Linked DNA regions of Homo sapiens: regions 1, 3 and 4 are each linked to region 2. The links come from fine-mapping of genetic effects on gene expression. A gene starts in region 2. Each other region holds a variant in brackets. All regions are shown on one strand. Distances are between the middles of the regions. Region 1 overlaps CAPZB (capping actin protein of muscle Z-line subunit beta). Region 2 holds the start of CAPZB (capping actin protein of muscle Z-line subunit beta). Region 3 overlaps CAPZB (capping actin protein of muscle Z-line subunit beta). Region 4 has its middle 20 kb from the start of SLC66A1.

What was found.
Region 1: its variant is fine-mapped to the expression of CAPZB in lung (TOPMed, PIP 0.96).
Region 3: its variant is fine-mapped to the expression of CAPZB in whole blood (INTERVAL, PIP above 0.99).
Region 4: its variant is fine-mapped to the expression of CAPZB in whole blood (INTERVAL, PIP 0.98).

What each region holds. Positions count from the first base shown.
Region 1 is chr1:19,352,818-19,355,555 of GRCh38, forward strand. All of the region lies in intron 6 of CAPZB (capping actin protein of muscle Z-line subunit beta), which reads right to left. Among named protein-coding and RNA genes, the nearest start is that of SLC66A1, 42 kb to the left of the region's middle. RefSeq lists an enhancer at 426-1,110. The variant C/T (reference allele first, on the strand shown) is at 1,221.
Region 2 is chr1:19,484,341-19,486,840 of GRCh38, forward strand. It overlaps CAPZB (capping actin protein of muscle Z-line subunit beta), which reads right to left and starts at 1,199. Exons shown (of 9, transcript NM_004930.5): 1 at 1,096-1,199. The coding sequence starts at 1,098. It also overlaps a transcript of LOC105376819 not described here. RefSeq lists enhancers at 1-492, 493-1,001 and silencers at 906-1,015, 1,046-1,775.
Region 3 is chr1:19,428,932-19,431,669 of GRCh38, forward strand. The region is part of intron 1 of CAPZB (capping actin protein of muscle Z-line subunit beta); the gene reads right to left. Among named protein-coding and RNA genes, the nearest start is that of CAPZB, 55 kb to the right of the region's middle. RefSeq lists an enhancer at 1,446-2,334. The variant T/G (reference allele first, on the strand shown) is at 1,228.
Region 4 is chr1:19,331,110-19,333,845 of GRCh38, forward strand. It overlaps a transcript of SLC66A1 not described here. Among named protein-coding and RNA genes, the nearest start is that of SLC66A1, 20 kb to the left of the region's middle. The variant C/T (reference allele first, on the strand shown) is at 1,746.

The DNA of each region.
Region 1 (2,738 bases), 130 kb before region 2:
TGATGGAGGCAGGGCTAGGTGGAGGCAGCATCGCCTGGTCTGGCTGTGTTCTGGCTGGCTGGCAGGCCACGTGCCCAGGAGAGTGGCGCTCTGCCCCGGCCACTGGCCTACCACCAGCCGCCTACACTGGGGCACGAGTGGGCACAGGGCATAGCCTGATGTGCCCACGGAAGGGACCCCTGCGAGGTGCCAGCAAGCCAAAGCTGGCGGCCTTCTCCAGATGGGCCGTGGGAAACAGGAAGACAAGGGTGCGCCCGGGGCCACACACAGGGAAGGGCAGCTGCCGCTGCTGCCGGGGTGAGGCAGGCTGGGCCACAGGACCCTGGGAAAGCTGAGGACCCATGGGGCCTTGCTGAGGGTGCTGATGCTGGCTGGGATGGCTCTTGGGGCTAGGGCCTGGCACTGTGGGCCTGGGGAGACAGCTCCAAAACCAAGCAGCCTTCCTTCCTGACACACGTGGGGCAAGGGCATGTGAGCGTGGGTGACCTGGATGAGGCCAGGTTTCCAGAGGAAAAACCCAGGCCCAGGTTGCTGTAAGGACTGTGTAAGGAGGAACTCGAGTGAGGGGCTCTCATCTGACCCCCACCTCACATCTTGGTCGTCCAGCCCCTGACCACGCCACGCCAGAATGCCCCCCAGCCTGCCCCTCTTCCCCTGCCCTTCTGTTTCTGCCCTTGCCACCTCATGCCTCAGACTGACACTAGCTTCTTCACTGACCTCTCTGCTGCAGGGCTGTCCCCTCTGACCCTCCCAGGGCTGCCTGATCCAGGCCCTTGTCATCTCTCTCCTTGATGACTGTAACAGCTTCCCCCTGACCACCCATCCCCCAAGCCGACTGGCAGAGCCACCTTCTGAAAACACAGATCCAATCAGATCATTGGACTCCCTAGAAACCTCAAAGCCCTCCTGACAGCCTCTAGTAGTGAACACACCCCAGTGGCCAAGTGGCTTCCAGCAGGAGATCATCCTGAAAGACAAAGGCACACCTGCGGGAGGGGCCCAGAGGGCAGCGCTGCTCAGCACACACCTGGGGAGCCTTGACGCCGTGTGCGGCTCTGCAGGGTTGATCCTGCTTGCGGGGCCTGCTTGCTCCTGAGGCTACAGGTCCACTGCAGCTGCTCATGCCGGCTGCTGAGACAGAGTCCTGTCTACACTGAGCTGACTGCTCCATGCACTTCCATCTGACTATTTAGCAGTCACCGAATGGCAGGCACAGAGGA[C/T]GAATTAAGACCAAAACAGTTGTGGCATGGTAGAAAGTAGCATATTTTTTTCTCACCAGGCAAATCTGGGTTCACATCCCAGCTTTGCTTCTTACTGGTTAAATTATATGGGCAAATTATTTAAGTTTGAACTTCAGTTTCCTCACCTGTTAAATGAGAATAACTTGACCTTGGTTACAATCTAATCCAAGGGGACAGCCTGCAAACCATGCATGTTCATGCTCACTGAGCTGCTCACTTCTCCCAGAACCCTTCGCCTCCCATCCAAACAAGCACAGGCGTTTTTCCAAGGCTCCTCTGGGACCCGTAGCCAAGCTCTGCAACCCTCACTTCCCCTGTTTGCTCAGAAGCTGTGCATCATTAACTTAGATTTGTCTACCTCATTGCAATCCCTCCCCCTTCTGTAGTTACTTACATTGGAACCCAGCCCCAGCTTTAATGCACCTCAAATGAATGATGTGGTGATCGGCCGTTAGAATGATGGCAGAGCATTAATTTCCTCATTAAAGCCCCCAGAGCAAAAGGCAACGCAAACAAAGTCCGAAGCCCTGGCCAAGGTGTGCTGAGGACAGGCACTCATCAGGCCTGGGTTTAGCTTGGCAGGAGACACTGCTCACGGCAAGCCGGAACCAGACTCTGGCCATGGGCTGACAGCTCTGATTTAAACTATTAGGAGGGCTGAGGATTAAATATTTGTCCAGGTCACTGTAAACCGGGTGGAATTATCAACAGCCTGGAGTGGTAAGTGATACAGGAAGCAGTCTCTGGATACAGATTCAGGATTTTCCACCCACTCCCCAGGTGGCAGGATGTGGGAGAGTCAGGCTGCAGGGGAGCTGGCTGCCTGGGGGTTTGGCTGTTCCTCCCTAGCCAATGGCCCCTGGAAGATAGGAGTCCACTTCCACGCAAAAAGGCTAAGTGCCCCCTGTGTGCACTAGTGAGTAGTCCTGGGATGGGACTGTGACATCCCTGCCCAGAGGCCAAAAAGAGGACCGCAACATCCCTTCTGGCCTCCAGCCCCTCTGACACAGGAGAGGCAGTGGAGCTTCTATAGGTGGAGGGAGGGTCCCAGGTATGACGGCTGACATTCACCTTGCGCCACTATTTTTTCAATGCATGTAGATGTTGTTGTAACTAGTAGAATGCAAATTCACTTAAAAGATTTACTACACTGGGCCGGGTGTGGTGGCTTATGCCTGTAATCCCAACACTTTGGGAGACCGAGGTGGGCGGATCACTTGAGGTCAGGAGTTCAAGACCAGCCTGGCCAACATGGTGAAATCCCATCTCTACTAAAAATACAAAAAATGAGCTGGGCGTGGTGGTGCACGCTTGTAATCCCAGCTACTCGGGAGGCTGAGGCAGGAGAATCGCTTGAACCCGGGAGGCAGAGATTGCAGTGAACCGAGATCACACCACTGTACTCCAGCTTGGGTGACAGAGCGAGACTCCGTCTCAAAAAAAAAAAAAAAAAATTTTACTGCATCGATCCTTTCGGTCATATTTTTTCTATCCACA
Region 2 (2,500 bases):
GGGCGATTGTGCGTTCATCCTTGTCCTGTGGGCCACCCATCCTCGCCCCTCGGCTCCCACTCAGGCCCGGGCGCCGTGGACCCCGGCCTGCCCTGCAGAATGCTTCGCACGCACAGCACCCACGGCGGCAGCCTCGAGAAGGGCCCGCAGAGCAGCGCGCTGCCTTCTGGGCACACCGATGCCCGCCCTTCCCTCGCTGGCTCCTAGGCGGCCTCCCTAGAAGCGGCAACTGAGAAGGCACAGCACCGGGACCACCCCATCCCTGATGGAGAGCTCCCCTCGCTCCCCAAAGGCTGCAAAGAAGGCGCGCCCCAGGTACAGGGAAGGGGACCCTGGGTCGTGCACCAGGCAGGGGGCAGGACCCTGATGAGAGGCTCAGGGCGGGGACCGAGCGGGGCTGACGCAGGTTACGCTAGGAGTGGCGAAAAGTCCAGGGAAGGGGATCATGGTGGGGAGGGGGCAGTGAGGTCCAGACGGGGGCCATGGGCGGAGAAGAGGAGGTCCAGATTTAAGTTCACAGAGAGAAGAGGAGATTCAGGCTGAGGCCACGGAGAAGAGGGGAAGCAAACCTAGGCCGCTGCAGAAGGGGCTGACCGGGGTCCAGCCTGAGGCCATGGAGAAGGCAAAGGGGGAGGGACAGAGGGAGGCAGCGGCCTAGCCTGGGCCATGGCAGGGAGAAACGACGGCCTAGCCTGGGCCGGAGAGACGGGGGAAAGCAGACCTAGCCCTAGACCGGGGGAGGAAGGGGGCCCACGCCAGGGTCACCGAGGGGGTGCCTGGCTGGGGACACGGTTCGGGAGGGAGGGTCTAGCCTGGGCTATGGGAGAGACCAGCCTGAACACAGAGGTAGTGAGTGGGACTCCAGCTTGCGCCAAGGGCGGGGGCTGGGAGCGGGGGCAGGGTCACTGCCACCCAAGTCGTCCGCGCCGGCGGCACCCTCCTGGGCGGGGAGGGACCGGGTCCACCCAGGGTCCGGGACCCCGCCCCTCCCCCACCCCGGGAAGCCACCCGTCCCAGGCCAGGGATGGGCAGGGGGAGGGGGACGCGAGCTCCGGAGGGGCCCCCGGGCCGGGGAGGGGGCCGTGCGGCCTTTACCATGGTGGCGGCGGCGGCGGCGGTCCCGGTCCCGGCGTCAGTGGCTCTCCCCCCCGCAGCAGGGCCCGGCGCTTCCACTTCCCCGGGTGCCCAGGAGTGAACATCCGGGTCAGCACCCCCCTCCCCCCGCGCCGGGCCGCCGCCACCTTCCTTCCCCGCCCCGGCCCGGCCCGGGCCCGCCCCCCACGCCGCCAGCTCGCGGCCAATGAGCGCGCGGGGCTGCGGCGATCGCCAAGTATGGAGAGCGGCGCGAGAGGCGGGCGCCGACGGGGTGCGGGGGCGGGGCCTGCGAGGCGGGGCGGGGCGCGGCGCTGCGCGGCGCGGCTGCCGGGAGTCCCCGGCACGGGTTGCGGGCCGGGGCGGAAAGGTCTCCTGGCTGTCTGAGGTCCAGTCCCCGACTCTGGGCCTGCAGCAGCGAGTGGCGGCGAGGGAACCGCACCCCACAGTCCCCGCGGGCGGGGATGCGGAAGGCACCGCGGCTGGGAGGGGACCGGCCCTCCGCGCCCCACCCCGTGCACGCGCTCACTCCTGCGGCGCACCCGGAACTGCCGCCGAGCGCGGACCGGCCCGGCCCAGCCCAACCCAGCCCAACCCAGCACTGGGGGAGCGCGCCGGGAGCGGGGCAGGAGCCCAGCGCTGCCGCTCGCTACGGCAGGATCTGGAGCGCCGCGCTGCACCTGAGCCCGGGCACGAATTGAGGAGCCTCGGGCTGACGCCATTTATTCAGCACCTACTATGTGCCAGGCCTTGTTTAGGCACCGGAAGATAACAGATAAGACATAAAGATCCCTGCCGGTATAGCTGCAGACAGAATATCTGTGAGGATGACACAGGTAGAGATTAGAAAATTAAGTTCAACAGGTCGGCCGCGGTGGCTCACGCCTGTAATCCCAGCACTTTGGAAGGCCGAGGCGGGCCAAGGTCAAGAGATCGAGACCATCCTGGCCAACATGGTGAAACCCCGTTTCTACTAAAAATACAAAAATTAGCTGGGCGTGGTGGTTCGCTCCTATAGTCCCAGCTACTCGGGAGGCTGAGGCAGGAGAATCGTTTGAACCCGGGGGCAGAGGTTGCAGTGAGCCAAGATCGCGCCACTGCACCCCAGCCTGGCGACAGAGCAAGACTCTGTCTCAAAAGAAAAAAAATTAAGTTCAACAAATGCTAGCTGTTATGAGTACTGTTGAATGTGCTACAGAGAACCATTCCATTAGCCCAGAAGGGCTTCCTCGCTCCACAAAGTGACTCAAGTTTCTCTCTCCCAATCTCTCTCTCTCTCTCTCAATCAAATATTTGTTAAGCTTAGTCTAGGTAGCAGGAGAGATCTGGATTGCTAACAATATCTGCCTCCGTGGCCTGTTTGCTTTGGTTAAATCAAATTAGGCGATCTGTGAGGGGATGGTAAACT
Region 3 (2,738 bases), 55 kb before region 2:
CCATTATTTTCGAGGACTGGTCCTCCCAGTGATTTGTCCAGGTCATCAAGGTATCAACTTTTTAAAAAAATTCTAGAAGACAGCAATCTCTCTAAAATGTATTACCTGCTCTACATTTTTACACAATGCAAATGATCACAGGACAATGCAATGAACACAGCTAAACCATTTCTCATTAGCCTAAGGACAGTGTATGAGTAGCCACTCTTGGAACAGCACCCTGTGTCTGCTTTTTACATTTATCTGCTTCTTCTGCCAGGCTGTCAGCTACACTTCCTCAACTAATATGTTGCTTCTAATCTGCTATGAGGTTGAGAACCCAGAAAATTAGAAATCTGCTCTCATTTCAAACAAAAAAAAAAAAGAAACTCTGAGAGAAGGAATAAATCAGGTTGATAACTTGGGGTCCAGAGTCACAGCCCACAAATAGTTTGTAAGTACCTTGACACTATATGAAGATTACTTCTTCCTTTTCTTGAAGAAGTTCAAGACTCTAAAGGCAGAGATACGATATACTAATAATTCCTACTTTCCCATACAACCTGCATAAGCAAGTCACCACCTCATCCCTTGGAACCTCAGTCTTCTTTAAAACCTGGGTCCGACGGTACTGTCTACCTCACGGGCCACTGGGAATGAGGTACCACGTCTGGGCCATAAGGGCACCGCCCACAGAGCATCCTCCATAAAGGGTAGGAACTCTCCCAGAGAGTAAAGCACATGGCTTATCTGCCAGGACTTTTACATAACATTTTTTAGGTGCTAGAGGGTCCTTTCTGCCTGGATTTTTCCCTCACTTGACACAGGTTTTCCATTCAGGCTGCCAGGAGTCTCTAGAAAGGTAGGCGGAGTGTTATGTCAGTTTCCAAGTCATTAAGCACCCACAAAGGAGGGCAGGCTTGCACAGCACTCACTCCACACAACCGCCCCTGCCCTGAGTACGACGGAGCACATGGCTTCCCTAAAGCCACAAGGAGAAGAGAGGCAGGGACAGTGAGAGCTGAAGGAATTCCACATGTGTCCATGGAAGATCACCTTCCCTTTGTTTTCCTGCACTCTAGTAACTCCCTCATGCAGCTTGCTTTCTGAAGCCCTCTGCTCCATTTCCCCAGCCCAGGACAGCATCAAGAAATATTTCCACCATCTCATCTATTTGAACCTTCTCCCTATTTACTGGTGCTCCCAACCCCATCTGAGGCCATCGAAACCAGACAACTGTGGCAGCAC[T/G]AGCAGAGTCCCCAAACTACCCTGACACCCTCCCTGGCAAGGAAAATTTCCACGCGCCTCTCCCTGGCATATTTATTCCAGAGGAAAACTTAGCAACCTACACACTACACACAGGCTCTGTGTCAAACTCTACAACAGCCATCAGTTGATCTTTCCCTTACACATCCCTCCAGGAAGTGAAATATCCGAAATGAGTCATACTCAGGAGTCGGAGCTATACTTCCACTGTAGTTTTTTTGGATAACCAATTCACTGTTTACACTCCAAAACCTCTAATTGCTGAACACAGAACAGTTCCTTTGCAGAGATCAAAGCTTACCTGGTGAACCTGGCGAAATGACAAAAATTCTCCAAAAGGAGTTAGCCATCCAGAGTGCCAGAGGAGGGTGGCTGTACAAGCACATTTTAATTGGCAAAGCAGAGTCGCTGCCCAGCAAGGAAGAGTATGCAGGGGTTTATTCTGCTGCTCTTCTATTTCCCCTTTAAGGCATATATCTCTTACCCCTGCACCCACCAACTTTAGTCACTCCTAGCACACAGCTGGCGGCCGCCCACCCGCACCCGCACCTGCACCCGCACCTCAGAGAGCTTGCTGATCCCTGAGCCGTGCACTGAAGCTTCCAAGCAGCTCTACCTAAAGGCAAGCACTGCCTGCTTTTTACAACATATACAATGGGCTAACCTGATGCACAGAAAAACCCTGGGTCACATGACAACCAACAAACTCATTGCTCAGGATGGCTCTCCGCCACGTTTCTCAGGCACTGTGCTTGGCTCTGCTGGCCAACTGAGTGAGCTGGAGCATTTTCTCTTGGGTGTGCATACCCCTCCACCTGTCCAACTTTAAAACACAGAATCAACAGGGATGTTACACTAAAGGGGACCCTAGAAACCATATAAACGGTGGAAAATTGAGGCCTGGACTGACCCATAACAAATGAGACATCACATAATGGCAAATGAACCATGACCAGAAAACAAATCTCTTTAGTACACAGTTTAGCGCTTCTGCTTATACAGGTTGAACAGCCCTAACCCAAAAATCCAAATCCCAAACTTTTTGAGCGAAGACATGAGGCTCCAACGAGCATATCAGACTTTCGGATTAGGAATGGTCAACCAGTAAGTTCTGCAAATATTCAAAATCTGAAAAGAATCCAAAGAAGTCTCAAATCCAAAATGCTTCTGGTCCCAAGCATTTCGGATAAGAAACCTGTAGTTTAATCATCAGTCAAAATTTAAGAATAGAGTTGATTTTGGGCCGGGCACGGTGGCTCATGCCTGTAATCCCAGCACTTTGGGAGGCCAAGGTGGGTGGAGATCAGGAGATCAAGACCATCTGGCCGAGGTCAGCAGATCAAGACCATCCTGGCTAACACGGTGAAACCCCGTCTCTACTAAAAATACAAAAAATCAGCTGGGCGTGGTGGCGGGCGCCTGTAGTCCCAGCTACTTGGGAGGCTGAGGCAGGAGAATGGCGTGAACCCAGGAGGCGGAGCTTGCAGTGAGCC
Region 4 (2,736 bases), 150 kb before region 2:
CGAGCGATTCTCCTGCCTCAACCTCCCAAGTAGCTGGGATTACAGGCGCCTGCCGCCACGCTCAGCTAATTTTTGTATTTTTAGTAGAGACGGGGTTTCACCATGTTGGCCAGGCTGGTCTCGAACTCCTTACCTCAGGTGATCTGCTTGCCTCAGCCTCTCAAAGTGCTGGGATTACAGGTGTGCCACCGCGCCCGGCCAAGATGGGAGTATTTTTATGGCCATTTTACAGATGGGAGAACAGTCTCAGCACAATTGAGCAGCTTGCCCAGCTAGGAGCAGCAGCAACACGAGACCCTCCAGCTTTGGGAGCCACCCCACACCTGGCCAACGCTGGCGGCCCGTGTCCCCTTCCTCCATCCTTGCTGGGGGCCCATGGCTTGTGGCAGTTCAGCTTCACCCTCAGGAGTGGCCCGAACCCTGCTGGACCCAGGCTCCCTTCTCACCATCCTGAATAGCGACTTTGCTGAGCCTCTGGCCCTGCCGAGATTTCAGGATAAGTTACCCCCAGGCCCGAAGCCCCAGCTTGCCCTGGCCTGTGCCTGCCTCAGGTGCCAGCTAGATGTCTCGCTCCACCTGGGTCTGGGACCTGGCTCCACACCAGTTACCTGGGACCAGTAGGTGCCCTTCCAGCCTGAAGATCTGGGGGCACAGTATAGCCACATGAGCCCCAAGTGTGGTCCTGAACTGGGGCCGGGTGGGGAAGAGTGAGATGGGATAACATAGCCCCTGCTTGGAGGCCCTTCTCTGATGGGGTGACATAATCCCTTCCTCCTGGGAAACACCAGCTTTTGGGGTGATAGCACTTTCAGGCAGGAGCTATGGTTCCTTCCTCAGGAGGCCTCCAATCTGATGGGGAAGACATGGCCCCTCCCCCTGGGGAGTGCCCTGTGTGATGGAGGCGATACAGCCCCTACCTTCAGAGAGCACCTGGCCTGCAGCTCATCCAAACCTGAGTCTCCTCTCCCTTGGAGGCCTCATTCCAGCGCCCCAAGGAGGATTCAAACTGTTGGGGCTGGAAGAACTTGGTGGCCTGGGTCCCTGGAGCCCTGTTGAAGGAGCTGGTGACATTCTGATGCTGGAGGCAGGTGACGGGGAGCACAGACTTTGTGTCCTGCACACTGAGCTCCAAGTGTGCCCCAGCCACTGAGCCTTGTGACTTGAGCAGATGTCCGAAGCCGTTTCTTCATCCCATGAGACCAACAACACTGTCTGCCTCAGAACATAGCCGTGATCAAGATGAGCACGGAGGCTCGTGTCCCAGCACCTGGCACACAGTAAGTGCCTGGTAAATAAACAATGGCTATATTTGCTTGTCATCAGGGGGCTTACCAATGCCTGGAACCTCCCCCAGGTTCCTCACAAAGAGAAGGGCCAAGGCCGGGTGCAGTGGTTCACGCCTGTATTCCCAGCATTTTGGGAGGCTGAGGCAGGAGGATCACTTGAGCCAAGGAGTTCAAGACCAACTTGGGCAACATAGCAAGACCCCATCTCTACAAAAATTTAAAAAATTACAATAAAGGCGAATCTCATCGATGGGATTCTGCCATACTGATGGGGCCGTGTTTGCTGATGGTGGGCAAACATGTTACCAAGTTAAACGCCTCCACAGGTGGCTTCCCTTTCTCCCTGGCTTACACCTCCTGCTCCTTCCTGCAGGTCATGGGATGGCAGGATGCTTGTCTCCAGGTGTGGCCTGAAGGGAAAAGTGTGGACAGTTTGGTGTGATCAAGGAAATGGAACCA[C/T]GCTTACCAGTTGCCCTTGTCCAGGAAGGGCTGGCTCCCTTAGGACGCCCACATGGAGCATGAGGTTGGGCCAGGCACCCCCAGAGGTCCCCGCCTTGGCAGGTTCTGTTTTACCTGTTGAACGAGACACTGTATGGGGAAGTGACATGCGCAGTGCCTGGCCCAGTGCTGTGCACACACGCTGCTTCGCTTCCTCAGGTTCCGGGGATGGGATGGGACAGAAAAGCTGGTTGCTTAGCTGGTGGCGTTCTCCAGCAAAGCAGAAGGGATGGTCCTGGCAGCCCTGTGCCGAGCACTGGACCCCGCGCCCTCCCTGGCTCTCTCAGCCCCAAGGTCCCATTAGTTATCAAACCTGGTTTTTTGTTTTTGTTTTGAGACAGAGTCACTCCGTCACCCAGGCTGGAGTGCAGTGGTACGATCTTGGCTTACTGCAGCCTCCACCTCCTGGGCTCAAGTGATCCTCCCACTTGAGTGCCACCACGCCCAGCTAGTTTTTGTATTTTTGGTAGAGATGGGGTTTCGCCATGTTGCCCAGCAGGCTGTTCTCAAACTCCTAAGCTCAAGTGATCCTCCCACCTCAGCCTCCCAAATTTGCTGGGATTCCAGGGTTTTGAAGCCACAGCCAAGACGACATGGCCTTCCATTCCTGAAGCCGAGGAAGGGGAGAAAGCCACAACCTTCACCACTCTCCACCCTTTCTGTCTGTGTGACTTGGCTTTCATCGGAGCTGAATGACGGGACCCCAGAGGTGCCGGGTGACAGCCAGGTGCAGAGCCTCAACTACCCCAGATGGTAAAGCTTTAAACTGATCCACTGGCCAGGTGAGGCGACTCATGCCTGGAATCCCAACACTTTGGGAGGCTGAGGCAGGTGGATTGCGTAAGCTGAGTTCAAGACCAGCCTGGGCAACGTGGTGGTGTGCACCTGTAGACCTAGCTACCTGGGAGGTTAAGGTGGGAGGATTGCTTGGGCCCTGGAGGTCAAGGCTGCA